Regions from separate parts of the Homo sapiens genome. Here region 2 is linked to region 1. Evidence: fine-mapped expression QTL. Tissue or cell type: whole blood. Region 1 holds a variant in brackets; the other region holds the start of a gene. All regions are shown on one strand. Distances are between the middles of the regions. Region 1 holds the start of FIGLA (folliculogenesis specific bHLH transcription factor). Region 2 holds the start of CLEC4F (C-type lectin domain family 4 member F).

Region 1 (15,548 bases):
ATTAACTACACCCAGGTTTAAAATCCAGGTCTATCATTTACAAGAGTGTGTGGAATACTTCACATCACTAAGCCTGTTTGTTCATCTGCAAAATGGAAAATATCTTAAAGCTTTTTGGGGGGTGTGATTAAGTGATATAATGTACAAATAAGATACCTCACCCAAACCTGGCACATAGAAAGTCCTCAAGAAGTGGTATTGCTGGTGATGAATCAAATGTACAAATACTTGTCAACTCAAGCACTGAGCCATCAGCTCTTCAAACTCTTTCCCCACTGAGTTAATGATATAGAGGCAAGGGTGAGAATCCAGAGAGTTGGTGAGACTTCAAAGGCTCCTCATATTTTATTTTTCTCTCTTCTCCAGAGTCTAATCCCTGTCTCTGAAGGCCTATAATTCTGATGTTCATCCCCCTGGGAGATACAGGCCTTGGGAGAACTGGCTCCCACTATGCCACAAAGCCAATATATATTGAGTATATCCTACCCTGGAGCAAACCAGACAAGGGACATAGTTGGCCAATTCACAGGAGAATACAACAACCACTCAGTGTATAAAAAGAATTTAATAATCAAAGAACTACAAACTAAAACAGAAATTAGATACCATTTTTTATGTATCAAGGTGGTAACATTTTTGTTTTATCATACCCAGGATAAGGGATAGCTTGAAAAAGAGAACAGTCCTAGACCTGTAAGAAGGGATAAAAATTAGTAAACCTATCTAGAAAGCAATTGGGTAACTTGTATCAAAAGCCATTCCATTGTATATGCCTTAAGTCTCAGTAATTTCACTTGTAGCATTTTATTCTAAGGAAATTATCAGACACGCACATAGAGTTACACCGATAGGTACCGGTAAAAAGCTACAAACAGCAAACATGCCTAACAATAAGAGACTGAATACATTATGGTCCATTTTTGGACAGACTATGCAGTCAAAAACTATTCTTTGAAAGAATACTTAAGAATATAAGAAAATGCTTTTGATAATGTTAAGTGGAAAAAATTACACAAATATGTACTGAATATTTTGTAAAAATTATATATATATATATATGAATACACAAAACTAGAAAAAGACTGGGTGGATATACACAAAAATGTTCACAGTAGTTATATCTGTGTTGTGTCTCTTAACTTCTTCACTCATTTCTGTCTTTTCCAAGTGTGTTAACCTTATCATTATAAAGAATAATAAAGCTTATTCGTGTTTTAGTGGATAAAACCAGGACTGATTCTCTGGAGAAGACAATTCCTTCCTGGTGGGAAGGACCACTTAAACTATTAGATCATAATCTCTTTGTAGGGCCACCGAATCAGATCACAGGGTTCTGTCCATCAAGAGTCTAGTACTGGTAAAAGAGGAGACTTAAAGAAGTCTCCTACTCTCCTGTCGTCCTTTCTGCGCTTGCCCTCTCCCTGCAAAGCTCCTACTTGATTCACTGGGACATTTCTGAAAGGCCTAGGAACAGCCCCGGGCGGTACTTCTCTCCCCAGTCCCAGTCCTGAACGTGCGCTCTGCTCCCTCTTCTACCCCTCACCCTTCTCTCTCCTGGATTCGCCTCTGCTGCAACCAAACCCGTAGACTGCAAACGCTAGGAAGGAGACCATGTCTCCCAAGTTTGGGGCTGAGTTTCGTTAGATAGTAAAATCTACCAGCAGGTGCCGCTCCAACCACGGCCCACAGGACCCTTCCCGTTTGCGAGTTGCTGCGGCTCGACTGGGAAACACTCACTTTATCTTGACAGAGTTGAGTGGGAGTCTTGGGTGCACACTGGGACGTCGTGTTTCGTTACTTTAAAAAAGAAAAGTCACTTCCGTCAGGCCCCCCTTTCTCCTCACCCTCGTGTGTGCTTCGAGGCCGAGATGCAGAGAGCAAGAAAAAGGAGCGAAGGGGATCCCTGCGCGTCCCAAGCACCCACCAGCGCCTACGGTGTGAGATGAAGGCGCACCCCCTGGGCGCGAAGCTTTTAAAGCACCTGCCCAGGGAGACATTTTTGAAGTTGTCAGGGCCCCTCCTCTGTCCCCTCCCAGACCCGGGTCCTGCACAAATCCTGGAGGGTTAGCGGGCGAGGCGGCCACCGCAGCGGCCGCCAACGAGCAGCTGCACGGAGGTGCAGAAGAAGGAGGCCACTGCCATTCTCCTGACAAGCTGGGGGCGTGGGAGGCCTCGGGAGCTCGAAGTCGCCTCGAGCGGGGGTGGGCGGTGAGCGGACCCCCGGGTGTTGACCAGGTGTTTGGTGGTAGAGCAGGGAAGGGGGGAACGGACGTCGACCCTAGGGATCCCTCACCCGCTCACGCTCCTTGGCGTTGGCCACACGCCGCCGCTCCAGCACCAACTGGAGGTTTTCAGTGGACGAGTAGCCGCCCGAGGGCAGCCGCTTGAGCCGGCAGACAGCGGCCAGCTGGGGCAGCGGCCCGAACTGCTCCCGCAACACGTCCTCCAGCACCTCGGCTTGCGGGGTGCCCAGGAGCGCGGGCGGCGCGGCGCGGGGATCTAGGACGCCGGGCGCGGGGTCCATGGCAGGGCCGAGGCCGCTGAGGCCGGGCTTTCACCTGCGCACCCGGGGCCGCACGAGGCCCGGGCGGGGGCGGGGCGGGGGCGGGAGCTGGACCACCTGCAACCATTCCCCGGCTGCGTATTCCAATCCCGGCCTCCTCTCTGGAGGCTGCGTCCAGGCATCGCGTTGAATAAGCCGCACAGGTGTGACTCGGGAGCGCTGGAGCGCAGCCCCGGCTGCACACCTGGAACCGCCGGGAGCGTGGTAGTGGTGTTTTTCTCAATCCACATGCCACGGTTCCAGTCCCCCAAATTCCCATTTAATCAATCTGTCTTGGGGCCTGAGCTTCTGGCTATGTGTATACAGAAAAATGTGATGGATATCCACAAAACTTTTTTAAGAATTCGTTTTGAAATAAAAGTTGCGGGGAAAATGGCAAGAAGAGTTTCTAAGAGCTCCTGTACCCCCTTCGCCACGCTCTCTACTTGCTAAGTTTTCACGTTTGCTCCGTTGCCCTCTTTCTCGCTGTGAATATTCTCATTTTCATTATTCTTTTTCCATTCTATTTGAACTATTTTCTTTTTTCGCGAGTGGGGGGATACATCGCTTTATTCATTTTCCCCCTTTTCCACACAGACCTTTATTGTCAACACAGCCAAACACAGTTGTTACTTCAGAAAATGTGCTGGAAAATAGCGATCCCAAACTTGTTTAATAGTAGAGTACAATTTAGTACTCTAGAAATAATTAACTACATCTTCTGTTTTGAGTAGATTACTCATGAGAGTTTGTTTCTCTGGAGGTTATCAATATAACTGGAACATTCTGATCTTGCACCTGAAAATCAGACATGTTTCTGGAAGCCCTCTGTAAAATCATTCCTTCCAAGCATAGAAATACATTTTTTTTTCTTTGGTCTGAGAAAATATTTTTTCTACGCTTTTGTTTCAGGTTCAGGGGTATATGTGCAGGTTTGTTAAGTGGGTAAATTGTGTGTTGCTGAGGTTTGGTGTACGAATGATCCCGTGGCGTAAGTAGTGAGCCTAGTACCCAATAGGTATCCTTCCAACCCACGCCCCCCTCTTACTTCCCCCTCAAGCAGACCCCAGTGTCTATTGTTTCCATCTTTGTGTCCCTGTGTATTCAATGTTTAGCTCACACTTATAAAGTGAGAACAGGCAATGTTTGGTTTTCTGTTTCTGTGTTAGTTCCCTTACAATAATGACGTCTAGCTGCATCCATTGATCTATTCTTTTTTTAAAGTTTTTAAGTTGCAGACATGCTGTCATATCACCTCTAAATACTCCAGTGGGTATTCCCCCTAAACAAGGCCTCTCTTCCACATAACCGCAACACAACCACTCAAACTAGGAAGTAAGCATTGGTACTGTGCTACCATACAATCCATGGACCCCATCAAAGTACCACCAGCTGTCTCAACAATGTCTTTTTCTCTTCTGGTTGGAATCCAATCCAGGAGTACAAGTTTTATTCTGTTGTCATATTTCTACTCTCCTTCATTCTGGACCATTTCCTCCATCTTGTCCTGTCTTCATGCCCTTGACAGTTTAAAAGAGTAGGGGCCTTTCATTCTGTAGTATGTCCCTCGACCTGGGGTTGTCCACTATTTGCTCATGTCCAGACCCCAGCCATGCCTTCATGGAGGGGCTCCATATAAATGATGCTGGGCTCTTCTCAGTGCATCACATCAGGAAGTACATGAGGTTGATCTGCCCCACCACTGGTGATGTTAACCTTAATCGCCTGGTCAAGGTGGTGGTGTCAGGTTTTTTCACCATAAATTGATAAATATTTTGTGGGCCAGGCACGGTGGCTCATGCCTGTAATCCCAGCACTTTGGGAGGCTGAGGCGGGCGGATCACGAGGTCAGGAGATTGAGACCATCCTGGCTAACATGGTGAAACCCTGTCTCTATTAAAAAATATTAAAAAATTAGACGGGCGCGGTGGCGGGTGCCTGTAGTCCCAGCTACTCAGGAGGCTGAGGCAGGAGAATGGTGTGAACCCGGAAGGCGGAGCTTGCAGTGAGCCTAGATCTGTGCCACTGCACTCCAGCCTGGGCAACAGAGCAAGACTCCGTCTCAAAAAATAAAAATAAAAAAAAATTTTGTGAGGAGATACTCCTTCTCATCCATTGTTGACTCCTACCTGAATCAACCAGCACTACAATTAGAGGCAAATGATTGGCATTCTACTGTGAAAAAGAGCTTTCCCTTCTTCCCATTTATTTATTCATTTTGTATTTATGTCAGCATGGGCTCATGAATTTCTATTTTAGTCACAGGATATAATTTATTTACATCATTATGTTAATGCTCAAATTGTCTCAGATTTGGCTTATGGGAGGCCCTCTAAGCTGGCTCCTCTGTCCTTTTCATATGACTCCCTCATTCTTTGTGCACTTTCTCACTTGTCCCAGGAAGGCTCTTCTTGAATTTTCCCAGCCCCAGCCCAGGGATCAGTCTATTCTTCTTTTAGTGGAAGGTAGGATTTAGAAACCAAGATCTGTGTGCTTGCTTGCTCATTCCTTTTGGGATGTCATTGCTTCTAAGCCCTTTTTGCAGATATGACACATATGTAGGTAAGTACACATGCATGTATTATATTATAATAATGCATATAATATCCTCTAATATAATATAATGCATATAATAACTATATCTGTGTATCTAAGTACATATATATTTAAAACCATGAGTTCACACTAATACCTCCAACTCCAACCCAACACCTCAGGTTCCCTCTAGTTTCTCTGCTTTCCTTTTTTGTAACTCCTCACCCCATATCTGCTTTTGTAACTCCCTTCTCCAACAATGAGAAGCTTGACTCACATTATCCTCAGTGTAATTACTTATTTGCTCAATCCCTGTACCTAACCAATTTTCTAACCACATCAGCCACCTCTTAGGCCCCACCCTTCTTCAGCTCCCACTCTGACATTGCCTCCCAGGAAAGGTCAAAGGAAAGAAGGGGACACACCAAATGTTTGACTGAGGTTCCTTGAGCATGGCCTGGGAATGGGGAAGTGTGACTGCACATCACATCCTCTATATAGCTTATTTCACAATAAACACGGGCCACTTCTGTAATTTAAAATATATTTTTAAGTAGGAAAATACTTTGTTTGCGCTAAGTTCATTTGGTGTTGTCTGCTGGCAGGCAGATGGAAAGCAACAAGGGCCAAAAGTGTGGGAAAAAGCTTAAAATGGAGATAGCTTACCCATTTACTTAACTTT[C/T]CTTGAAAGCATCATAAAGGACATCATTGATATTATTCTATTTTATTGCCAAACCTTGCAGTGAACAAGGTGGTGTACATTAGGAACCCATTGTGAGCACACCAGATTTGATTCCTTCATACCTGTGTTCTTCCATAAACTCCAACTCTTAACTTTCTGGCCTCTGGTCTGTTAGATTCATACGTTATGTCATTGTTCTCAGGGAAAGCAATCATGTGAACTGATTTAAGCTAAAGTGTTACACCTGATGGTGACTTAGGGCTGATACCTTGCCATACACCCAATAATACAATGGCCTAATGAACAAAAAGTTTCACTATCCTCTAACAGTGTGAAAGGTTTAGGTCAGCTCTGCTCCTCAAGGTCACTTGGGGACTTAGGTTCCTTCCAAATTATTGTTCTTCCATCCCTTAGGGTCAACTCCCCTACAGCATTGTCATCATTGGCATGGCTGAGGCTCGGTAGCCACCGTATCTGGGTTCCAGGAGAAGGGCACGGAAGAGATCTTAAGGCCTGACCAGAGGTGGCACATAGGATTCAACTCACATGCCATTGGCAGGAATTCACACATGGCTACACACGGATGCAAGAAAGGGTGGGGGAATGTAGTCTGACTGGGGAGCCATGTGCCTGGCTACAATTCTGTTCAATGGGGAGAACGCATTTGGTTGACAACAGGAGTCTCTGTCCTAGTGCCCCTCTTCTGTGCTCCAGTAGTGCCCATAAGCCTCTGCGAGATCATTTATTTCTCTTATTTTGGCTCCTTGAAGGAGGATCACTGGCCACAGCATCTCCAGCACCTACGGAGTGCTGGCTTGGCACACAGTAGACATGCAATAAACATTTGTTGAATGAGTGAGAAGGCAAATGAATGAATGATGCTTGCAATGAAGTAAAAAAGCTACTTTGACATGGGTAAAATAAGAACCTGCTTATTCAGGTAAAATCTTTCACGTTTTGCCATAGCTGCTTGACCCTATAATATATATTTGTGAATAAATAAATAGATGAATGAAAAAGCTTACCTAAGTTTACATAGAAAGTAGGAAGATCTCTCTGCCATGGAAAATTGAAGGATAAGTGTCCTCTTAGATGCTGGTGATATACTATGGTTGATATACACAGTACTGGCTCAGTTGCATTCATCCTATACTGCTCTATGGGTCTAGTAGGGAGTTTCCTGTTCCAGGCTGCCTGAAGTATGTGAACATCTTTAGGTCCCAGAATGCATTGCTCTCCTTGTGTTTGCTATTCCTGCTTATTGCTCTTCCTTTGTGGGACCAGACCTCTTGGGATGCAACTGATAACATCCTCTCTTTACTGCTTTTTTGTTTCCTGAGTCCTAAATACCTTGTAGTCCAGTACAATGCCAGCCGAATGGAGTCCACCCTTGGAGTAAGGATGGGGACACACAGCTATCTCAAAACACAATGCCTTGAAGAAAGGGGATCCCTGTCTAGTTTGCTGATTGATACAGACACTAGGTCTCTGAGTCAATGGTGCAAAAAGCAGGATAAGGCTAAAGGACCTTTTACCAATTTCTTATTGTTGCTCTGTTTCAAAAAGCAAGACATGTGCTTGCTTCAAATCATGTTTCTGACCTCAGCTCCATGACTATTACAGGTAGTCGGTAAAATTTCTCTGGCAATTGAGTTACTACCTGTCTTGGTTTCTGCTGCTGCTGTCAGTTTTGCCTTTTTCTGTGTGTTATTATGTATTTTAGAGGGAAATGAGAAGACTCTTGGTCAAATGCCATTTTAAAGAGAAAATTCCCCTAATACTGGCTTTAAATAACACTTTTTTTTCATTTAAAATTAAGAAAGCTATTTTTTCACTTAGGGAGAGTTAGAAGGCATGCAGTAAGAAGGAACTCTTCACCTTTGCCTGATGACATAAGGCTGGGTGAGATGATGACTTAAGGCTGGCACATATTGAATGCTAACAAATGTCACCATTATTGTCACTTCTCTTGCTAGAAAAGCTGTTTCCCTCCATGCCTGTGGGCGGCTAAGGAAAGGTCAAGACTGCTCTGTCTACCTGGGGACAATTAAACAACACTCCTCCCGAATCCTGCCTTGGAAGGGGAGGGCAGGGACAGGAAGGAAAGAGGGGGAACCTTAGCAGTGATCAGGACACACTCCAGGCAGAGGCTTCCAGCAGGCCAGGGAAGCAGAATCTCAGTTTGGACCCCTGGATTTGGAGCATTTGAATTTTTCTGACTTTGGGTAGGGGGACATTTTTGTTTGTTTTTCCCTTAGGCTTTCAATACTCTAGCCTGTTTTACTTGTGCAAAGGGGCCTATGAATGATATTCCTAAAGCCAGGAAGAGGTAATCATGTTAAGCAGAGTGAAAAAAAACCCCCAGGGTTTCAGGGTTGTTGTTTTTTTTTTTTTAAGCAGTACCTCTTTAACAAGCCATCCCTTCCTTTCAGGAACTCCCACCCCAGGTGCCTCATCACCCCACCCCACCCCTTCCAGAAGGGATTGAGAGAGATAAGGTAGGTGGGGTGTCATTCCTGAGCTGTCCCCTTAGAGGCCTCTGCAGGGAGCCTGCCTTGCAGCAGCAAAGACCTCAGGCCATTCCCCCCAGCAAGGCTCAGTGTAGGCTCAGAAGCTCTTCTAGCTATTCTAAGCAGATGCCAAAGGATTTCATTCAGGATCCTGCTGCTTACACAACCATCAGAGGGCTGGAGAGGCAGGAGGAGCTCTGAGTTTGAGAACACACCACTGCCACTGCCATCAACCCCACAAATGTGGGGAAGGGGCCTAGGACACGGTGGTGGAGAAACGCCTGGCCCCATCTCCTTGCTTTCCACAGAAAATATACAAAAGGACAGGAAGGTGAGCTCTGCCTCACTTTCACCCTCTCAATGTCCTACAACAGTTTCTAATTAAATCATCTTAATTGGCATTCAGAACACTGGGTCCTAATTCTGAAAAATGAAGCTTCTGCAGTGCCAAAAGGCATGAGGTGGAGGCAGCCAATCCACATTATCTTCTCCTACGAGACACAGAGAAATTGCCCTCGCTCCATCTCCAGCCGGTCCACCTTGTCAGTCTTTGCCCGTTAGTTACCCTAGGCCTAGCTGAGAAGAACTCTCCCCTGCTGGGTCTGCCCTCCTGGGCACTCAGCATCCCTTATCACGGTGACCACATTGTGGCTCACACATGCCACCTTTCTCCCATTAGCTCAGGCAAGACAAGAAAGAGCTGCTAAAAAAGCAGCTTTAGTAAAGGAAGACCAAGAATGCATTTTAAACAGGGACCAAAGACTATAGTCAAGCCTATATTGCCCAGAATTCCCATCCAAATCGATTTGGCAATTTCATGTTGTTCATATTCACATAAATTCACATTGTTATGATGATATATTATTTTTGACACAGCATTATAATTTTATCCCACTGTATCCTGGGCATTAGACTTTCCTCCCATTGTGCACATGAGAAAATTGATAGAGTTAAATGACCGGGCAAGGTCACGCTGCCGGTCAGTAGCAGAGCCAAGTCTAGAACTCAGCTTTGTCACATTCACTGCACGTTTGTCACATTCACGTTCACTGCAGCTCTCTTTCCTCCAAGTCTGAGTGGCCTCCAACCCAAGAACACTCAGCACAGCCTCACATTTCCAGCTGCTTGGGTCCCGGCACACAGGTCCTGCCTGCTTGCTATGTGGATTATTTCACTTCCCTTGGGGGCCTTCTCTTCCTCCACCCCCACCAAACATGAGCTGGGATTAGTGTATTGTCTACACCACCAGCAGGGTTAAAAGAAGTTCAAAAGTGCCTCTCAGAGAGAGAACAGAGAACAGAGAAAAGGAACAGGCACAGAGACTCTGCCCTTGGGCTTTGTCTCCAGGAAACTGGCCAAAGACCTTCCCTTCCCAGAGCCCCTTAGCTCAAGAGCTTCTCATTGGTGCTGCTGTGCTTCAGAGCCCTGACAAGACATAAAGAGAGACCTACAGCCTCGTGAAGAGGCCCTGGGAAGCTTACAGCCATGTGAGCTGCAGTGGCCTTGCAGAAGAGCTGAGAAAATGAAGCAGAGAGTGGGGGCTACAGGCAGAGGGCCATGGCTGTCAAGGGGGACCTTCTGCAGCAGGGCGTTTGTATGACCTTCAGGCAAGTCATCTGTATTCATCCATTTTCACACTGCTGATAAAGACATAACTGAGACTGGGAAGAAAAAGAGGTTTAATTGTATTTACAGTTCCACATGGCTGGGGAGGCCTCAGAATCATGGTGGGAGACCAAAGGCACTTCTTACATGGCAGTGGCAAGAGAAATGAGGAAATGCAAAAGCAGAAACCCCTGATAAAACCATCAGGTCTCGTGAGACTTATTCACTACTACATGAACAGTATGGGGAAACCACCCCAAAATTCAAATGATCTCTCACTGGGTCCCCCCCGCAACACGTGGGAATTATGGGAGTACAATTCAAGATGAGATTTGGGTGGGGACACAGAGCCAAACCATATCATTCCATCCCTGGCCCCTCCAAATCTCATGTTCTCACATTTCAAAACCAATCATGCCTTCCCAACAGTCCCCCAAAGTCTTAACTCATTTCAGCATTAACCCAAAAGTCCACAGTCCAAAGTCTCATTTGAGACAAGGCAAGTCCCTTCTGCCTATGAGCCTGCAAAATCAAAAGCAAGCTAGTTACTTCCTAGATACAATGGGGGTACAGATATTGGGTAAACACAGCCATTCCAAATGGGAGAAATTGGCCAAAACAAAGGGGTTACAGGGCCCATGCAAGTCCAAAATCCAGCAGGGCAGTCAAATTTTAAAGCTCCAAAATTATCTCCTTTGACTCCAGGTCTCACATCTAGGTCATGCTGATGCAAGAGGTGGGTTCCCATAATCTTGGGCAGCTCCACCCCTGTGGCTTTGCAGGGTACAGCCTCCTTCCTGGCTGCTTTCACAGTCTGGCATTGAATGTCTGCAGCTTTTCCAGGCACACAGTGCAAGGTGTAGGTGGATCTACCATTCTGGGGTCTGGAGGACGGTGGCCCTCTTCTCACAGCTCCACTAGGTGGTACTCCAGTAGGGACTGCGTGGGAGCTCCAACCCCACATTTCCCTTCTGCACTGCCCTAGCGGTGGTTCTCCATGAGTTCCCTGCCTCTGCAGCAAACTTCTGCCTGGGCATCCAGGCGTCCATACATCTTCTGAAATCTAGGCAGAGGTTCCCAAACCTCAATTCTTGACTTCTGTGCACCTGCAGGCTCAACACCACGTGGAAACTGCCAAGGCTTGGGGCTTGCACCCTCTGAAGCCACTGCAAAGCTCTATGTTGGCCTCTTTCAGCCATGGCTGGAGCAGCTGAGACGCAGGGCACCAAGTCCCTAGGCTGCATACAGTACAGGTACTCAGGGCCCTGCCCAAAAAACCATTTTTTCCTGCTAGATCTCTGGGTCTGTAATGGGAGAGGCTGCCACAAAGGTCTCTGACATGCCCTGGTGACACTTTCCCCATTGTCTTGGGGATTAACATTTGGCTCCTCATTACTCATGAAAATATCTGCAGCTAGCTCAAATTTCTCCTCAGGAAATGGGATTTTCTCTTCTATTGCATTGTCAGGCTGCAAATTTTCCAAACTTTTATGCTCTGCTTCCCTTTCAAAACTGAATGCCTTTAGCAGCATCCAAGTCACCTCTTGAATGCCTTGCTGCTTAGAAATGTCTTCCACCAGATACCCTAAATCATCTCTCTCAAGTTCCAAGTTCCACAAATTTCTAGGGCAGGGGCAAAATACCAGTAGTCTCTTTGCTAAAACATAAAAAGAGTCACCTTTGCTCCAGTTCCCAAGAAGTTCCTCATCTCCATCTGAGACCATCTCAGCCTGGATTTCATTGTCTATATCATTATCAGTATTTTTGTCAAAGCCATTCAACAAGTCTCTAGGAAGTTGGAAACTTTCCCACATTTTCCTGTCTTCTTCTGAGCCCTCAAAGCTGTTCCAATCTCTGCCTGTTAGCTAGTTACAAAGTCGCTTCCACATTTTCAGGTATCTTTTCAGCAACACCTCACTCCTGGTACCAATTTACTATGTTAGTCCCTTTTCATGCTGCTGATAAAGACGCACCCAGGACTGGGAAGTAAAAGAGGTTTCATTGAACTTACAGTTCCACATGGCTGGGGAGGCCTCAGAATCATGGTGGGAGATGAAAGGCATTTCTTACATGGCAGCAGCAAGAGAAAATGAAGAGATGCAAAAGTGGAAACCTCTGATAAAACCATCAGATCTCATGAGACTTATTCACCACCAAGAGAACAGTATGATGCAAATTATCTCCCACCGGGTCCCTCCCACAACAGGTGGGAATTATGGGAATACAATTCAAGATGAGATTTGGGTGGAGACACAGAGACAAACCACATCATCATCCAAACTCTCTGGGCTTTATCTCCCCATTTGTAAAGTGAGGGTTCTAATAGAGCCTTCCTCAGAAGTGAAGTGAGGAGTGAAGTAGGCCATCAGCAAAACAATCACGACTAATGCTTGCACAGTGGGATCCGTGTCCCATGCACTATCCTAAATTCGTCCTATGCATTGACTTTCCTAATTGTCACAGCACCCCCACGAAGGAGGTACTGTAGTTACTTCCATTTCACAGAAGAGGAAACTGAAACATGAAAGTCAATGAACCAGCTTTCCCAGCTAGAAAGGAATGAAAATGGGATCGGACCCAGAGTGTTTGGCCTCAGGGCCTGGGTCTATAACCTCCAAGCTCTCCTGCCTCCCATAACCCCCACCATGTTGTTAGTTAATGGTAGCATGATTTATGAACCAAATAGAAAGTCCAGAAATGTGGTTATCATACAGACAAATCCTAAGTGACCCAGGCTAAGGGGTGGTCAGAGCACCAATGCAGAAGCTACAATCAGAGCTGGTTGAGGAGACACTAAGGGGCTTGGCTCAGTTCCAGTGACCCCATGGCAGAAGTGTGATGAAAAGCTCATTGGGGTCATCTTGAAGAGGGCCTGGGATCCCAGTCCTGGCACCTGTATGGTGGAGAGTGGAAAATGCTTGTCAGGTCTAAGAAGTCAAAGATTGCAACAAAAGCAGGGCTTTGGGGAGATTCAAGAGGCAGTGAGATGCAGCTGCTTTGGGGAGTGAGGCAGGGTTGCACTATGGACAGCCTGCTGCTTGGGGCCCTGTCCTGCAGGAAGAAGCCAGATGGCATGGACCCTCTGGCTATCCTAAAGCACATGGACCCTCGTGCCTCCCAAGAGAAGCCAAGGCATCCTTACTCTTCCGTGACTCTCATTGGGGCCTGGGACTCTCACTGGGGATGGGGAGGTCCTTGGAGTTGGTTGCCTAAGCTGCAGCAGGAATTGCTGGCTGGCAAGGTGGAAAAATTTATAACTGGCTCTTATAAGTGAGAACAATACACAAAAGAGAGGGTCCTTCTGAGAGGCATGGTGGAGGCACACAGGAAGGGTTGGTCCCAGGCCCAAATTCATGTGTCAGAGCAGTGAATGCTGTGTGTATCTAGTGCATGAAAAGGGCTGGGCATTTGTTGGTAGACATCAAAATTACTGACTAAGCAAGTGTAGATTTTCCTCTAAACCAGTGACATCCCTCATCCTCAAAATGCTGTTACATCTTCCTCCAGAATGTGAGAAACTTCTCCCTGCCCCTGGAAAACCAGGTCTGAGAGTCATTTCGTAACAACTGTAATGTCTATAGCTTCTCCTACTTATGCTAGAGTCAGGCTGTCCCCTAAAGCACAATGAGTGGGACCCCAGACTCCACGGTGAGCCTCATGCCCGGAAAGACTAAAAATCTCTGGGAGAGAAGGCTGTGGGCACCTGAGTGTCAACATCATACCCTGTGTGGTGGCAGTTGTCTGTCACAGCCTGCTAGTGCCACCAAAACAACCCAAGGTCACAGAGAGTGGCAGCTGTACAGAGTTCCCACAGTGGAGGCAGGGCGGGCAGGCCCTCCAGTGAGACAAGCCGGCCACGTCCCCCAGGTCACCCGACAACTGCACTCTGTCTCCCCAGATGGTTCCAGTCAGTCTATGGAGAACTTCATTCCTCTGCCTCTCTCTTGAGGAAACTGCAGCTTTCGGAACCTCCCCTGAAGGAGAGAAGGGGGCAGCGGGGACATGAGAATTGACCCTGAGGAGTTGGCAGGAGGGAGTCCTTCCTGTTTACCCGCCCCAGTCCAGCCACTTCTTTGTTACCTTTAGACGGCAGGGCAAGGTTGGCTGGATTGATTATGACAGCTCCTTGCTGCTCCACACCATCACCTCTCCACAGGACTCCTTCCTGGGGTTGTGAGAAGGGGCTGAATGTACTAACTACCTCTGCTCCCTGCTAGAATGCTAGCCTCATGAGGGCTGGGATTTTTGTCTGTTTGGTTCACTGTTGAACCCCTAAAATCTAGAAGAGTGCTTGGTACATAGTAGAGGTGCAATGAACATTCCTTGAAGGAATAATTATTGATATAAAGTAAAATTCCCGAAGTAGATTTCATAGTTAATTGATCTTGGTGGCTGGGCTTGTAATCCCTGCACTTTGGGAGGCTGAGGTGTGCAGCTCACTTGAGGTCAGGAGTTCGAGACCAGCCTGGCCAACATGGAGAAACCTTGTCTCTACTAAAAATGCAAAAATTAGCCAGGCATAGTACATGCCTGTAATCCCAGCTATTCAGGAGGCTGAGGCAGGAGAATCGCTTGAACCCAGGAGGCAGAGATTGCAGTGAGCCGAGATCATACCACTGCACTCCAGCCTGGGTGACAGAGAAAGACTCCATCTCAAAAACAAACAAACAAACAAACAAAACAACAACAACAAAACAATAGTTATTGGATCTTGGGCCAGGCACAGGGACTCATGCCTGTAATCCCAGCATTTTGGGAGGCCAAGGCAAGAGGATTGCTTGAGCCCAGGAGTTTGAGACCAGCCTAGGCAACATGGTGAGACCTCATCTCTACAAAAAATAAATAAAATTAGCCAGGTGTGGTGGCATGCGCCTGTGGTCCTAGCAACTTGGGAGGCTGAGGTGGGAGGATCACCTAGACTGAGAGGTCAAGGCTGCAGTGAGTCAAGATCTCACCACTGCACTCCAACCTGGTTGACAGAGCAAGACCCAGTCTCAAAAAACAGTGGGGGTTGGTTGGGTGGAGTTAGTTATGAATCTTTAGACATTAAACAAAGTAACTGAAATGGAAGAAGAAGAGGCGAGAATGACCCCCCGACCGATCAAAGCCTGTGCGCCGCTGCATCCCGGGCCCAGCATCTAAGTCCCACTGCTGTCACCGCCGCCACCTTGCCCAAGAGGAAGACCGAAGGGGATGTTAAAGGAGATAAAGCCAAGGTGGACACACCTCAGAGAAGATCCACAAGGTTGTCTGCTAAACCTGCTCCTCCAAAGCCAGAGCCCAAGCCTAAAAAGGCCCCTGCAAAGAAGGGAGAGAAGGTACCTAAAGGGAAAAAGGGAAAAGCTGATGCTGGCAAGGAGGGGAATTACCCTGCAGAAAAAGGAGATGCCATAACAGACCAGGCCAGGGAAGCTGAAGGTGATGGAGAGGCCAAGTGAAGTGTGTGCATTTTTGATAACTGTGTACTTCTGGTGACTGTACAGTTTGAAATACTATTTTTTATCAAGTTTTATAAAAATGCAGAATTTTGTTTTACTTTGTTTTTTAAAGCTATTATGTTGTTAGCACACAGAACACTTCGTTGTTTTTTCTGGGGGAAGGGCTATATGTCACTAATAGAATGTCTCCAAAGCTGGAGTGATGTGAGGAAAACACCTTTCCCTTCTAGTTTTGG
Region 2 (15,548 bases), 24 kb after region 1:
GGCAACATGGCGAAACCCCATTTCTACAAAAAAAATACTCCCCAAAATTAGCCAGACATGGTGTCGTGCATCTGTAGTCACAGCTACTTGGGGAGCTGACCTACTCAGTGGGCTGAGGTGGGAGGATCGCTTGAGCAAGGAGGTCAAGGTTGCAGTCAGCCATGATCAGGCTACTGCACTCCAGCCTGGATGACAGAACGAGACACTGTCTCCAAAAAAAAGATGACTGGAAACAAGCCTGAGAGAAAAACAAATGCAAGAGAAGGGAAGTGTGCTCCTAGCACTTAAGGGCATCACCTGATGCCACCTCCCCTTGGCCTTCCTCCCTGCTGATGTCTCTTGACCTCTGGTGTCTCCCTCATTCATGGAAGACATGGAGGTTTGCTGTCAGGGATTCTACCTCCAGTGCATATGCTCATCAGAACTCACTCAATATTTGCTCCCTGCCTGGCAGAGGAGACATGGAGGTCTCCGTCATACCCACTGAGAGCAGGAAGGCCAAAACACCAAAGTCCCTTATTCCACACCAATTCCACCAACAACACCCCATGCTCGCAGCTCTGACCTGCTCCTCCTTGGAGGCCACAGATGCCAGATGGGCTCCCTGGGACACGCAGAACTGCTCAGCCTCATGCCAAGACTTCTTGACACTAGAAAAATAATATAAGCTTCCACCATTGAACTTCCAGCCTTGCAGGACCATCTGGAGAAGCTGACCTGGAGCAAAGATTGGGGAGAAAAGAGAACCAGGAGCTGCTGGTAGGAGTCCCAGAAGGAACTTTTCTGACCTCTCTAGGGCCTGCCCACTGAGGTTCACAAGCCCATGAAATTCTTGATGTGCAGTGCTCCAGGAGAAAGGCCTGGGGGGCTGCACTGCCATCTCACTACCCAGCACTCCAGGAAGCAGCCCTCAAGACGCCTGGCTTGGGCACTCCTGGGAGGCTCAGGCAGCTCTCTCTTTCCAGATACCTGCTTCCTGGCTATCCTGCCCTCTCTCCCAACTCATTGCTATCACCTGACAGTCCTCTCCACCCCAACTCCTGCCATCTTCCCTGGGGATTTTACAGGTATCCCATAGCCTTACTCATTACCTTGTCTTCATCTCCATCCACTTGCACTGCCACACCCATGGCCATCCTGGGACCTGGTCATCACCTGGTCTGCCTGGCCTTCCATTTTTCAAACTCTTATAGCTCATCCTGTGAGCACAAGCCCCAATTCTGTCAGCTCTTTCTTCCCTCCCTGCCACAACAGCCTGCTCTTTGGCGTCATCTATGCCACAGCTGTTTGAAATGGTGCCGCACAAGCTCAATTAATCACCAAATTGTTCTTTTGTTCAACGTGCATTGTGCAACGTTCCTTAACTTCTTCCAGCTAGCCACTGCCATACTGTACAAAGATCAATCAGACATGATTGATGCCCTTAAGGAACTTAGAGCCTAATAAATGAGACAGATGGAAAAAAGGTGTTGAAGATGCATTGACTAAAAAACACATGCACAGTAGAATAGTCACGGAAGAAGGTATGGTCTGTTTCATCTGAGCAGGAGGTGGGGCTCAGGAAGGACACCCTGGATGAGATGTTACTGGAGCTGAGTCTCTCTTTCTTTCTTTTTCTTTCTTTCTTTCTTTTCTTTCTTTCTTTCTTTCTTTCTTTTTTTCTTTCTTTCTTTTTTTCTTTCTTTCTCTTTCTTTTTCTTTCTCTCTCTTTCTTTCTCTTTCTTTCTTTCTTTCTTTCTTTCTTTCTTTCTTTCTTTCTTTCGCTCTCTCTCTTTTTCTTCCTTCCTTTCTTTCTTCCTTTCTTTCTTTTTTTGAGACAGAGTTTTGCTATGGATGCCCAGGCTGGAGTGCAATGGTGCGATCTTGGCTCACTGCAACCTCTACCTCCCGGGTTCAAGCGATTCTCCTGCCTACCCTCCTGAGTAGCTGGGATTACAGGTGCCCGCCACCATGCCCGGATATTTTTTTTGTATTTTTAGTAGAGATGGGGTTTTGCCATGTTGGCCAAGCTGCTCTCAAACTCCTGATCTCAGGTGATCTGCCTGCCTTGGCCTCCCAAAGTGCTGGGATTACAGGCGTAAGCCACTGTGCCCCGTCTGGAGCTGAGTCTTAAGGGACTGAGGAAGAGTTTGCCAGGTGTTCAATGTTAAGGAGAGCACCCCAGGCAGGGAAAAGGATCAGCACAAAGGCATAAAGGTCAGGAACAGCCGGGCACAGCCTGATCTATTCAAGCTACTTGGTATTCTTGGGACATAAAGGATGGGTGAGTGATGAATTTGGACAGGTTCACCAGCACTAAATGGTACATCCCATGTGAAACAGTTTGGATTTTTTTTTCCCTATGAGCAATGGGAAGCACTGCAAGGTTTTGAGAAGGATGGTAATATGTCCAGATTTGCACTGGAAAAACGTCAACCTGGTGGAAGCTGAACCAGAAGAAGGTACTCCTAATGAGGACAGAAACACCAATGATAACACAATGGCGAAAGTCCCAGTAAGAGATGGGTATAAATCAGGGGTTCGAAAAGTGTGGTCCCAGACCATCAGCATCACCTGACAACGTGGTAGAAATGCAAATTTTCAGGACCACCATAGCCCTACTGAATCCAAAATTATGTTTTAACAATCTGCTTCAGCAAGCCCTCTGGGGGTTCTGATGCCCAGAACTAGTCATCTAAACCAACCATTGGCAAACTCTAGCCTGTCAGCAGTGTCTTTTTAATAAAATTTATTTTATTATGAGCGTAGCCATGCTCATTAGTTTACTGTCTTTTTCTTTTGCTTTATAATTACGAACAGAGTTGAGTAGTTGTAACAGAGATCGTACAGCCCCAAAGCCTAAGATATCTAGTTCTTTGTCCTTTAAGAAAAAAAATTAAGCTAATAGTTCTCAGCCCAGATGCCAGTAGATCCACCTAGGCATTTAAAAAAGAATACTGATGCCAGACACCCTCACCAAAAAAAAAAAAAAATCACAGTTCTGGAGGTGGGTCCCCAGGCATCAGTATTTTCAAAGCTCCTTGGGCGATTCCAGTGTGCCCCCAAAGTGGAGAAACACTGGGCCCAGCTAAAGCAGCAGTGAGAGCTGGGAGGAATAAGGACATTGGGGCACTAGGAGATGTGTGAAGAAGTGGGGCCTCTGACCCCAGACCAGGAACCGGGCAAAGCAGTAAAGTGGAACGTCACTGCTGCCCACCAAGCCCTCATTTGTTAGCCCCCATTTCTTCAGTGGCTGCCCCAAACACTCCCTTCTGTCTCTCAGCTGCCCTCTTGTCCACAGGCCAGTCAAAGAGAACTGCCTGAAGTTTCCAGAATCTCATGATTTTGTGTCTCCATGCCTGCAAACCCTATTTGCTTGGCAAACACCTACTCATCCTTCAGGATGAAGTTCAAGAGCCATCTTCTCACAAAGCATCTTTTGATCTTTTCCCCACAGATCTCTTCCCTCCCCCTAGAAGATTCCTTTTCCCTTCTTTTTGTTCTGCCCCCAACCCCAGTTCTCAGTACCTGCTTCTAACCTATCAGCCTTATACCTGTCTGTATGTCTTTCATGCAAGTCTGTACTACTAGCCTGTAAGCTTCTCAAGGGTACCTATCACACCTTATTCACCTTTTTACCCAGCACACCACTGGGCCTCAATAAAGCATCGGGTGAGGGCATGAATGCTAGGTACTTTGTTAAAGGCCTTACATGTGTGAACTCATTGGATCCTCACTGTGATGCAAATATTATTGTCTCCCCCTTGCAGATGAGAAAAGTGTAGCTCAGAGAAGGTAAGTAACAGGCTCAAGGTCATACCATTTGGGGTATCAGGAAGTCAGAAATAAGGCTGTGTGGCCCACTAGCCCATGCCGTCCTTATCACACACGTGCACCATTTACAGTTGGTTTCCCGTGTTCATTTGGTCACCGTGACCAGGTTATAAGCAACTTGAGAGCAGGAACTTCCCACCTCACACCATCTCTACAACTGCCCAGTTTCCTTGGGCCCATTTCCCTGGATTTGGTCAAGGAGATGCATGTTGCAGTAAAAAAGAGGCTGATGAGATGGAAGACTCTACCCTCTCAAGAGACTGTGCCCTCCCCAAACGCGACTCCCCTCTCCCACTTACTTTGGGTTCTTTGTAGCTGTTCCTGTGAAGTAATGACCACATGGAGGGTCTTCAGGCGACTCTGCTCCTGCTGGATTTCCATGGTTAGAGCTTTGGTGTTCTCTAGATCCCCTCTTAACCTCTGGATCTCGGCACTGGCCTTCTGCAGATTGCTGTCTAACATCTGGGTCTGGGAAGTTAAGGCTGAAGCATTCTTCATTCCTTGTTTTAGGGTCTGTATCTCTCTGCTGGCATTTTTCATATGACCATTTAAGACCTGAATCTGGGCATTTAAGGTATTCACATTTTCCATCTCTGACTTGAATACCTGAATCTGAGTATCTGTCTGGTCCAGACGGCCATTTGCTTTTTGGGTCTGGGCTGTGACCATTTTCAAATCCCTTTTTAACACGTGAATTTCATCACCAGCTCTTTCCAAATGACCTCTTAAGAACTGGATCTCAGCACTAGTGTTGTCAAAACTGCTTTTTATAAAGGCCTGGGTCTGGGAGTTTAAAGCATTTGTGTTCTGCAAATTTTCCTTTAGTCCCTGGATCTCAGCATTGGCTCCTTCCAAACTATTTCTTAAAACCTGGTTCTGGGTCCTCAAGTCATTGACACTATCTAGATGGCCTCTCAAAACATAGATCTCAGCATTAGCGTTCTTTAAACTGCTATTGGCTAACTGAGCCTGGGTATTTGCCGTTTCCAAACTGGCATTCAACATCTGAATTTCAGAGTTTGCATTTTCTAAGCCTCTGCTTAGCACGTGGAGCTCAATGCTGGTGTTTTCTAAACTGCTTTTTAAGAAATTCAGCGTCTGGAAAGTTAAAGCATCTGCCTTTTCAAGGTCTTCCTTGAGCCTCTGGATCTCAGCATTGGTTCCCTCCAGGGAACTCCTTAACATCTGTGTCTGCAAACTCAATGTAGTGGCATCCTTTAGAACTCCTTTTACCATCTGGATGTCAGCATTGGTGTTTCCCAGATGATCACCGAGCACCTGGAGCTGCGAATTGACATTGTCCACTCTGCACTTCAACATCTGGATTTCTACTACCCAGGCACTGGAATTCTCCATGTGGCCTTTAAATGTCTGGATAAGCTCTCGCATTTCTGCCTCCCTGCCAAAGTGGTGATGATCTGGAGGGAGGAAGTGAAGAAGGCAGCCAAAGAGGCCCATTATGTAGGGTAGCATTTTATGGGCCACCCAGAGTGTTTCTAACATTTCCAAGGGAAATGGGTACTGCACAGCCCTCAGTGCTCCCCCAAGCACCCTCCTGGTCACACAGCCACCCAGACCCTGGGGACGGTCCACCTGAGAATGTGGGCCAAGAAACAAAGATCTAATTCACTGTTACACACAAATGAAGGGGTCAGAAGGATTGAAATGCTTGCCTGCTGTAAGCCAGCTGCCACCAGGAGTCATGCTGGTAAGGCTTGGATTATTTTGTCGTTATAATTGCTCAACTTGAAAGTAACTGATTTTATCATTTAGAGCTGTTGAAGTTTAATTTTACTGGAATTTCACCACAGATGGGTCATTATGGGAAAGAAAATAGGTATGAATAAAGCCTGTGGTTAGTCCTACATTATATTTGTACACCAAGCATAGAGCCTCTTGATTCACCATTGTTACTTGATAAAAACCACCACAAACATAAGTTTTATGATGGCAAATTCCATGGAGAAGAAAACACAAAGGAAAGAAACAGAAACAAAACAAAATAGGTGTGCTGGGAGGAAGTACCCTGTTCAATCAACAGGGCTATGATAGAGGCATGCCATGCCCTCCAGGTAACTAACACTGGACCTCAGCTGAGATGGCCTTTTAAAGAGCCAGCACCCCCAGTGTTACATAGGGCAAGGGTCCCTACAGAACAGTTTGAGGATACAGGAAACCTGAGTAAAAGGCCTTGCGCTGGGGTCGTTGAAGGAGACCCCACAGCCCCTTTAATCTGCAAGGTCTTTCCCACCAACCTCACATGCATCTACCTCTGGTCCTGCTAGCATCCTTTGTTCACCTCATGAACTAGGACCTAATCTCACACATCCATGATCCCCTTCTGATTCCAGTCTCCCCTCAGGAATAGGGAGAAAAACCCAAGATGGCAGGGACCCTTTCTGGAGCATCCATGTACTATTTCTCATGCACTGCCTATGTAGATGTGTGAGACCTCAGTTACTGTGCTAAGGTAAGAGAGGGGACCTTTCAAGGTACTGGGAGTTCAGTCAAAGATTCTGCTTTGTAAAGATAGACAAACAAATCAATGCGACAGAATGGAGAATACGGAAGTAGACCCCCACACATATGGACAATCGAATTTCAACAAAGGTGCAAAGGCAATTCACGGAGAAAGATAACTTTTTCAACAAATGGTGCTGGAACAATCAATTTCACACCATTATACAATAATTAACTCAAATGAGGCAGAGACCTAAATGTAAAACTAAAAACCGGGCTGGGCATGGTGGCTCACGCCTGTAATCCCAGCACTTTGGGAGGCTGAGGTGGGCAGATCACGAGGTCAGGGGATCGAGACCATCCTGGCTAACACGGTGAAACTCCGTCTCTACTAAAAATACAAAAAATTAGCCAGGCGTGGTGGCGGGCGCCTGTAGTCCTAGCTACTCCAGAGGCTGAGGCAGGAGAATGGCATGAACCTGGGAGGCAGAGCTTGCAGTGAGCCGAGATCACGCCACTGCACTCCAGCCTGGGTGACAGAGCGAGACTCCGTCAAAAAACAAAAACAAAAACTAAAACTAAAAACTGTACAATTTCCAGAAACAAAGGAGAACATCTTTGTAGCCTTGGATTAGGCAGATTTCTCACATACGAGATCATGAGAATAATCCATAACAGAAATAAAATGATAAATTAGACTATCAAAATTAAAATCTTGTTAGGAGAATGACAAGACAAGTCACAGACTGAGAGAAAAATATTTGCAAATCACATGACTAGCAAAGAACAAAGAGTACATACTCTATGATCTCTTATCTATAAAACTCTAGAAAAAGCAAACTAATCTATAGTTACAGCAAGTAGATCTGTGGCTGCCCAGGGATGAGGAGAGGAAGGGAGAGGAAGGAATTACAAAGAGCCACAAGGAAACTTTGGGGTGAGGAGGATGACTATGTGATGATGATTGTGGTGATGGTTTCAGGGGCACACACATATGTCAAAACTTAACAGATTGTATGCTTTAAATATATACACCATTAGACCTCAATAAAACTGTGTTTTTAAAAAATTATCTCTTTCTGTGAGGATGGTGGAGCCCATTCAGTGGTCAGAGGGTACCAGGAGAGAAGCTCATCCTAGGGTCTGAGCATCTGAAGGCCCCAGTTCCCTCTGCACCCCACCCCCACTGTGGCTACTCACTGTTGGGTTCAAAAGGTAAATGCCCAGTAATGTTGTCTCCCAGAATTACGGCTTGCACAGGCTTCGGAACAGGTCTTGTCTGCTGTTGAACTGAGACATTCCATTTTTCCAGGTCAGCAAATCCCCAGCCCTGAGCCTGGGAGGATACGCTGTCCCACACAGAGGTAGAGTTCCAGAACCGGGGAGATAGCAGCAAAGACCCTCCCAGGGTTTCCCTCATGAACCTCAGTTCTTGGGAGGCTCCCCCTTGGACAGTGGCCTTTATCTGTTCCCAGGGAAGCTGTGGCTTGGGCCTGGAGCTGGAGGTGGAATGATCTTTCTGGGAGCAGAGAGGCCCAGAGAGTGTGCATCTGGGGCCCCTGGGGACTTTGTGCTGAAAGGAGAGAAAGTTAGTGAGATTTGGGTCACCTGGGGGCTTACCCACTACAAAGAGAGTCACAAGAGAGAAGACCAAGGTCACAGCCATAAATGCCGGGGTAGCCTGAACGAGCCTCGGTATCTTGGGGGCTGCAGGAGCCATTGCCACAGAGTCCACCTCTGCAGGGGAGAAGGCAGTGTCCAAGGTGAGAGGGTGCTGTGCAAGGTAAGAGGGTGCTGTGCAGGCTGAGACACAGCCTCTCTGATTCTGTTTCCTGGGTTGTCTAATGGGGATGATAACTCCTGCCATGCTTATCATGCAGGTGGTTATGGAGAAGGAAGACAAAACACTTTGGGCTGTTCACCAGAGCTAGATGTGGATATGGTAGCAACACAGAGCTGAGGAGCTCTGAGACCGAGACCACCGATCTCCAAATCTCAAGGAGGCTTTGGTGGTGCACAGGGCACAGAACCTGGCACAGAGCACAGAGCAACAAAAGTGTAGTTTGAATGAAAGAAGAAAGGAAGGGAGGGAGGCCTCACAGGACCAGCTCAGTGTGCAGAGCCGGGATTCCAAGCCAGGACCATCTGAATTCAAAGTTCATCCCCTTTCTCTTGCCAGGTCTGCATCCCCAAGGACAAGGGTCTGGGGAGAGCAATAAGACAGCAATAAGCTGCCTTATGGCAGAGGGCCAAAGGACAGGCAGGCTACTCCCTCACTGGGCAAGAGCTGGGGCCCCAGTTTTCTCACCTTGGGGGTGCAGGGAGACACACTGGTTATCTGTGCAGAAGCGGACTGCCTCACCGTCCATCTCTGCTTCCTTGATCCTCCAGCACTGCTCCCAGCCACTGGCTCCTGGAAGGGCCGTCCCGTGGACCAATGGCAGTGGAAGCAAAGCTGAGACACCCACACTTATATGCTCCTGACCACCCTCCCAGCTCTTCCTCCCTCCCTGCCTGACTCTGCAGAAACCCGCCCCAGTGGGCCCCTCCCCTAGAGGCTCCCAGATACCCATCTGCCCTATTTTCTTCCTCTTCCCATTAGCACCTTCCCGTCAGTTCTCAGCCCCATCATCCCAGCCTCTGCCGCATCCAGCATAACCCCAAACACACCTCTTCTTCTCTGGGGGCTGGGACTGGCACCTAGGAAGGGGGTCTCAGCTTTGCACAGAAAACATCCTTATGACTATGGCTGACCTTTAATTCTAGCCTCAGAACCTCTTAAGTAAAAGGAGTCAGGTAAAAGAGGGGCCAGGTCAGTGCGGCCGATATTTGCAGGTCAAAGGAGGAAGCGGGGTGACCAGCCACTTGGGGACTCACAACTGAATTATAGTATACAGGAGGATGTGCGGAGGTTATATAAAAATACTACATGATTTTGTACAAGGGACTTGAGCATCTGTGGACTTTGGTACCCATGGGAGTCCTGAAACAAATCCCCTGCAGATACCAAGGGACAACTCTGTAAAAAATATATCTGGTCTTCATCTCAGTTCCTGACACAGAACTCCTAAAACGCTTAGAGTTTCCTGGGTGACAGGAGTGTTTTTTGTTATTCATAATAAGCCCCTTAGGACTACACTTGGGTTTATGCTAATGAGGTGACACAGGGTGGACCCTTAGATAATTTCAGGCTGGAGGCTGGTCCCAGAAAGACCAAACATGGGATTAGACTTTGGAAGACTGGGACTTTCAGCCACCCACTCCCATTCCCTACTCCCAGACCTCCAGGTATGGGAGATGGCCTGGGGTCTGGGCTATAACGACTCTTAAAAAATGAGATTCAAGGAGCTTAGGGATTGGTGATCCACATGCCAGGAGGGTGTCATGCCCTGACTCCACAGAGACAGAGTCTCCTGCACTTGGGACCCCACTGGGCCTTGCCCTGTGTACCTCTTCATCAGGCTGTTTTTGTCCTTTACAATAAAAGAATAGGAAGTACAGTGTTTTTCTGAGTTCTGTGAATTGTTCTAGTGAATTATGAAAACTGAGAGGTTGTTGCAGAAACCCCCTAATTTTTTGTTTGAGACAGGGTCTCCCTCTGTCACTCAGGCTGGAGTGCAGTGGTACGATCATAAGTCAATGCAGCCTTGAACTCCTGGACACAAGTGATCCTCAGTTCTCAGCCCCAACATCCCAGCCTCTGTCACATCCAGCATAACCCCAGCATAACTGGGACTACAGGTGTGTGCCAACATACCTGGCTAATTTTTTATTTTTATTTTTTTGTAGAGATGGGATCTCTTTTTATACCCCAGGCTGGTCTGGAACTCCTGGCTTCAAGTGATCCTCCCACCTCAGCCTCCCAAAGTGCTGGGACTACAGGCATGAGCCACCTTGCCTAGCCAGAACCCCCAAATTTGTAGTTGACCAGGCAGAAGTGGGGTCACTACCTCACTTGTAGCTAGCATCTGAAGGGGGGCAGTCTTGTGGGACTGAGGCCTTACCCTGTGAGATCTGTGCTAACTCTGGAAGTTAGTGTTAGAATCTGTTTGAATTGTTGGATGCCCAGCGGGTGTCAGAGAATCGGCTGGTGTCAGGAAAAAGCACACATTTGGTGTCAGAAGTGGTGTCAGAAAATACCAAGCAGGCCCCAACTTTAGCTGATTGGATCCATGCCTCCTGAGGTGACCAGGTTCTCAAGACTAACTCCAAAGAATCTGATGGAGCAGGCTGGGGCCAATGTGTGGCTTTCAATGAGCCCTATCCCTTCCAGGAGGAACAGATACTGCTTCAGGGGTTCCTGCTGCTGGGTGGGCCTAGCATTAGAAGAGAAGGCATGAGGCATCCCAGTGGACAGTGCCATGGAGCTGTGCAAACGTGATGTCCCTGTCCCTGCCACAGGGGTTACCAGCTGAACAGAACCAATATTCCCATGGCTGGTCAAGGAACCCCTCTAAAAGCCAGTGCTGGGGTTACCAGCAGATTCCTGTTCTTTGGTTCCTTCTTGTCTCCATTACTTCAAACGGTCACAATCTTTTTGAAATAAATCACATTTTCTTTCACTTTGGAAAGTCTAATTACATATTACACCATCATAGCAACTCTTAAACAAACTCACAACCTTGCAAATGGCTTGTTCCATCCATGTTGTGTTGTTTCTTTGCTACTTTCACCCTCTGTTCCTATGTCCCATTCTCATGTCTTTTGCACAGATCCTGGGGTCAGCCTCTTATAGGTCCCCAGCTGCCAACTAACAACACTGCAGACCAACCACAAAGGTGGAGAAGCCACACGGAACGTGCCTCCTCTGAGGCCGGGCCAGGAGAACAGCTTTGGCCCAGGAGGAGCCTGTGCCATGCGTGGCTGATGTCAACCCGGCAAGCAAGTCGCCCCGTGGGTAGGGGATCTGCAGACAGGAAGGGAGCGGTTGCCCACACCCAGTTCATGATGGTGGGGGTGTGTGTGTTTGTGTGTGTGTGTGTGTGTGTTGAACTGTGCAGTGTTAGGGGCCCAATGTGTAGAGTGCAGAGCCACCATTTGCTGCCTTTTACCTCCTGTTTGTTGAAAACTGACCTTAGAGAGGAGGGCACAGCAGGAATGAAGGGTGAAGGCACCTATTTCTGGACTATCAACAGCGCTGCCTGAGATCCCAGTGGTGTCTGCCAGACTCCTTCACCGCCACATAGAATGGGATGGAAGCTGCTGGAGGTGCCTCCCTAGAGGCCCATCAGACACCCAGGGCTGGTGGCTGAAAAGAAAGGGCTTGTCTTGGTTTCTGTTTCCCCATACACAGGAAGGGCCCAGGCTGGACCTACTCAGGACCTATTTCCTCCTGAGGCCTGAGAGCTGAGGGAACCTCGAAGGCAGAACTCTACGGATCCCTTGCCCAACTGGAAGGTCAGAGTCTGGGCCAGGAGAGGGGCATAGTTCTTCCCTGGCCTCCCCACCCACCCTCCGGGCCCTAGCTCTTCTATTTCCCACAGGAACACCATCTACCAGCAGGGCAGAAAAACCAGGGGGTTGCTATGTCTTCACTGAGAGGCTTTCTGTTCTCTGGCCAGACAAAAACAAATGGGCATTAATACAAGAACTGGCCAGGCACGGTGGCTCATGCCTGCAATACCAGCACTTTGTGAGGCCGAGGCAGGTGGATCACTTGAGGCCAAGAGTTCAAGACCAGTCTGGCCAACATGATGAAACCCTTGTCTCTATTAAAAATACAAAAACTAACTGGGCATGGTGGCAGGTGACTGTAATCCCAGCTACTCGGGAGGCTGAGACAGGAGAATCATTTGAACCTGGGAGGCGGAGGTGGCAGTGAGCCGAGATTGTGCCACTGCACTCCAGCCTGGGTGACAGAGCAAGACTCCAAAAAAAAAAAAAGAAAGAAAGAAAGAAAGAAAGAGTCTACTTGGTGGGACTAAAGCCAAACCAGAGGGAGCCAGAGCCAGGAGAGGGAGAGAGGCGGATTCTTCTTTATGTTTTTTAATCCAGGACATTTTATTTAATAGTAGGGACAGCTTCTTGACATGATGTGAGCACTTGTATTCAGCAGTACAAAGTGTCCTGATTTTACACCCTACAAAATACAGCAACAACAATTCAACACATTTACAGGCCTGAATGCAAACCACCTGGCTTTTATTCCGTTCGTCTCCTAACTGTTCTCCCTGCCTCTCCTCTTACCCCCTCTCAAGTCCTGTCACCATGGTGCAAGCATAATGATCTTTTCAAAAAAAATTAGATGTACACACAAATATTACTTAGCTCTCTCAGCTGGGAGAGGCAATGATGTTCAAATAGCAACAGCCACACAGCCCCCAGGTTTTGATTTCTAACACCATTCTCCAAAAAAAGGAAACCAGGGCTCATTAGAGAAATGGCTGACTCTAGAACTGGGGCAGGAAATACTCAAGATGAGCCTGGAGCATCTTGTAGTACCAGAAAGTAAGGAGATGCTTAGTTACCAAAAAAAAAAAAAAAAAAAAAAAACTGAGGGAAGTATGTCAAAATGACACAGGAACCAATGAAGGAGCTCCCAATGGCCAAAGCCAGAGCAATTTGAGCAAAAACAAAACAAAAAAACAAATAAAATAGTATTGGATTATAACCCAAAGTGTAAGAGAAATATCTGTGAGTCCATACTGACATAAATGAATGTCTGAGTAAGTAAACAAATAGATAAGTCTCTAGGGCAGAAAATGTCCAAATATTTTATGTAAATATCCCATTCTGAGAAAAGTAGAGTGTAACTTCCTACTCTTTCAGTGTGAACTGCATATAGTGACTTCCTTCCAAAAAGTTCAGTACAGGAAAAGGGAGAAAAGAGTAATTCTGGAGTCAATAAACTTGGCAAACACTACCCCAGCCTGGAGATCAAGGTCAACGCCAACAGTAATGAATTCTATTGATGGTATGTACCCTTCATAGGATGTGATGAGAATGGCCCTTTATCTCCATGGTCTTCCTCCTGAAACTCAGTACCCCAATGTAATCATGAGAAAAACACCAGACAAATTCCATTTAAGGGACAATCTACAAAGTACCTGACCAGTGGGCTCCTCAAAACTGTCAAAGTCTTCAAAAACAAGGAAAGACTGAGAAAATGTCACAGCCAAGAGGATCCCAAGGAGACATGATGGCTAAATGTAACGTGGTATTCTGGATGGGATCCTAGGAGAGAAAAAGGATGTTAGGGGAAAACCAACGAAATCTGAATAAAGTATGGACTTCAGTTAAATATTGGCTCATTAATTGTGACAAATGTACCATACTAATATAAGATGTTAACAATCGGGGAAATGGGAAAGGGTGGGTATATAGAAACTCTCTGTATTATCTTCACAATTTTTCTGTAAAGCTGAAACTATTCTATAATATAAAGTTTTTAAAAAAAATTTTTGAGACAGGGTCTCACTCTATCACCCAGGCTGGAGTACAGTGGCGTGATTACAGCTCACTGCAGCCTTGACCTCCCAGGTTCAAGCAATTCTCCCACCTCAGACTCTTGATTTGCTGGGACTACAGGCACACGCCACCACACACGGCTAAGTTTTGTATTTTTTTTTTAGAGACAGGGTCTCCCTATGTTGCCCAGGCTGGCCTCAAACTCTTGTGATCAAGTGATTCTCCTTGAGTTCTGTGCTCTGTGAACACAGGCATGAGCCACTGAGCCCAGCCTAAAAAGGTATTTAAAAGATATTAGGGATGGCTGGGTATGGCAACTCACACCTGTAATCTAAGCACTTTGGGAAGCTGAGGCAGGAGGATCACCTGAGCTCAGGAGTTTGAAGCCAGCCTGGGCAACATAGCAAGACCTCATCTCTACTAAAATTAAAAAAAAATTAGCTGGGCATGGTGGTGCACACCTGAGGTTCCAGGTACTCAGGAGGCTAAGGCAGGAGGATTGGTTAAACCCAGGAGTTCAAGGTTGCAGTGAGCTGTGATTGTGCCACTGTACTCCAACCTGAGTGGCAAAGGGAGGCCCTGTCTCAAAAAAATCAAAATTAAAAAAAGACATAAGTAGTAATTATGGAATCTCAGAAGACCAGAGTCAAGCTTTAGAGTCTATGCTGGCAGGAGGAATGCTCCAATAACGGCAGCACTAAATCTAGTCTGAGCTCTGAAAAAACACCAGGACAAATCAAAGGTCTCACATGGTTGAATCTGACCGGTGGTCCCTGGGTCACATGACTGCACTTTAAAAATAAATAAATAATTAAATTAAATTAAATTAAATTAAAACAGGGTCTTGCTCTGTAGCCCAGGCTAGAATGCAGTGGTGTGATCACAGCTCACTGCAGCCTCAATCTCTTGAGCCCAAGCAATCCTCCCACCTCAGCCTCCCAAGAGCTAGGATTACAAGTCCGCACTACCACACCCAGCTAATTTTTTTTGTATTTTTTGTGGAGACGGGGTCCCACTGGGTTGACCAAGCAGATCTTCAACTCCTGGCCTCAAGTGATCCTCCTGCCTTGGCTCCCAAAGGGCCTCCCAAAGCATCTAGCCTCATGCCTGCACTTTTCTGCAAGGAAGGCTGTAAGTGCTAGTTCTGCTTCTAACTTTAAAAGGTGAACTCAAAATACAGGAAGATACCTAAACCAAGAAGCTGTTCAGGATAAAGGAAGAACCACAAGAGTGTGACAAATGTTTTCCAGTGACATAATTCTATTGCATGTCTGTAGATCTTGTTATTCCTGGAAGCATTTAAGCTTTCAAATGTAACAAATCATTTGTCACGCTTCTTCAACACTAAGTAAAAAACAGATGTCACTCATCTGCCTAAAACACTTCAATGTTTCCTCCTTGTCCTTCACATAAAATCCAAAACCCCTCCTCTGGCTTTGAAGGCCCTCCAACAGCTGCCTGTCCCCTGCTTCACCTCACACCACACTCCAGCTAGACTGGAGTTCTCTTGGTGCCTCAGGCCTGTCACACTCCTTCTCTGCATTTTCTGTTTTCTCTCTCTTTCCTCGTCTGTGTCCCCATCCCACTCTGCCTAAATTCTGCTCATCTCTCAAGGCTCAGCTTATGTGCCTCTTCCTCAGGAAGCCTTACGAAATCCTTTCGCTTTAGGCTCCCACAGAACAATAAAAGTTTCCTTTTTGAAAACACACTGAGTTTATCATAAATTGGGTAGCCTGTGTTTTCTCCCCCAAAAACAGAGATTCATTCTGAGACCTGAAAAAAAAAAGAAAGTTGCCTTGGGACAGATAGGAGGGGAGGTTCTTGGAGGTCTGGGATGGGAACAGAGAGGCAGAGAGAAAGGAGGGCCT

Evidence for each region. PIP is the estimated chance that this variant, and not a neighbour inherited with it, causes the effect.
Region 2: it holds the start of CLEC4F, and the variant in region 1 is fine-mapped to the expression of CLEC4F in whole blood (TOPMed, PIP above 0.99).

What each region holds. Positions count from the first base shown.
Region 1 is chr2:70,788,115-70,803,662 of GRCh38, forward strand. FIGLA (folliculogenesis specific bHLH transcription factor) reads right to left here and starts at 2,529. Exons shown (of 5, transcript NM_001004311.3): 1 at 2,294-2,529. The coding sequence starts at 2,524. It also overlaps the pseudogene HMGN2P21. RefSeq lists an enhancer at 11,972-12,526. The variant C/T (reference allele first, on the strand shown) is at 5,760.
Region 2 is chr2:70,811,882-70,827,429 of GRCh38, forward strand. CLEC4F (C-type lectin domain family 4 member F) reads right to left here and starts at 8,718. Exons shown (of 7, transcript NM_173535.3): 1 at 8,582-8,718; 2 at 7,894-8,010; 3 at 7,474-7,563; 4 at 4,113-5,231; 5 at 566-717. The coding sequence starts at 8,642. It also overlaps a transcript of CD207 not described here.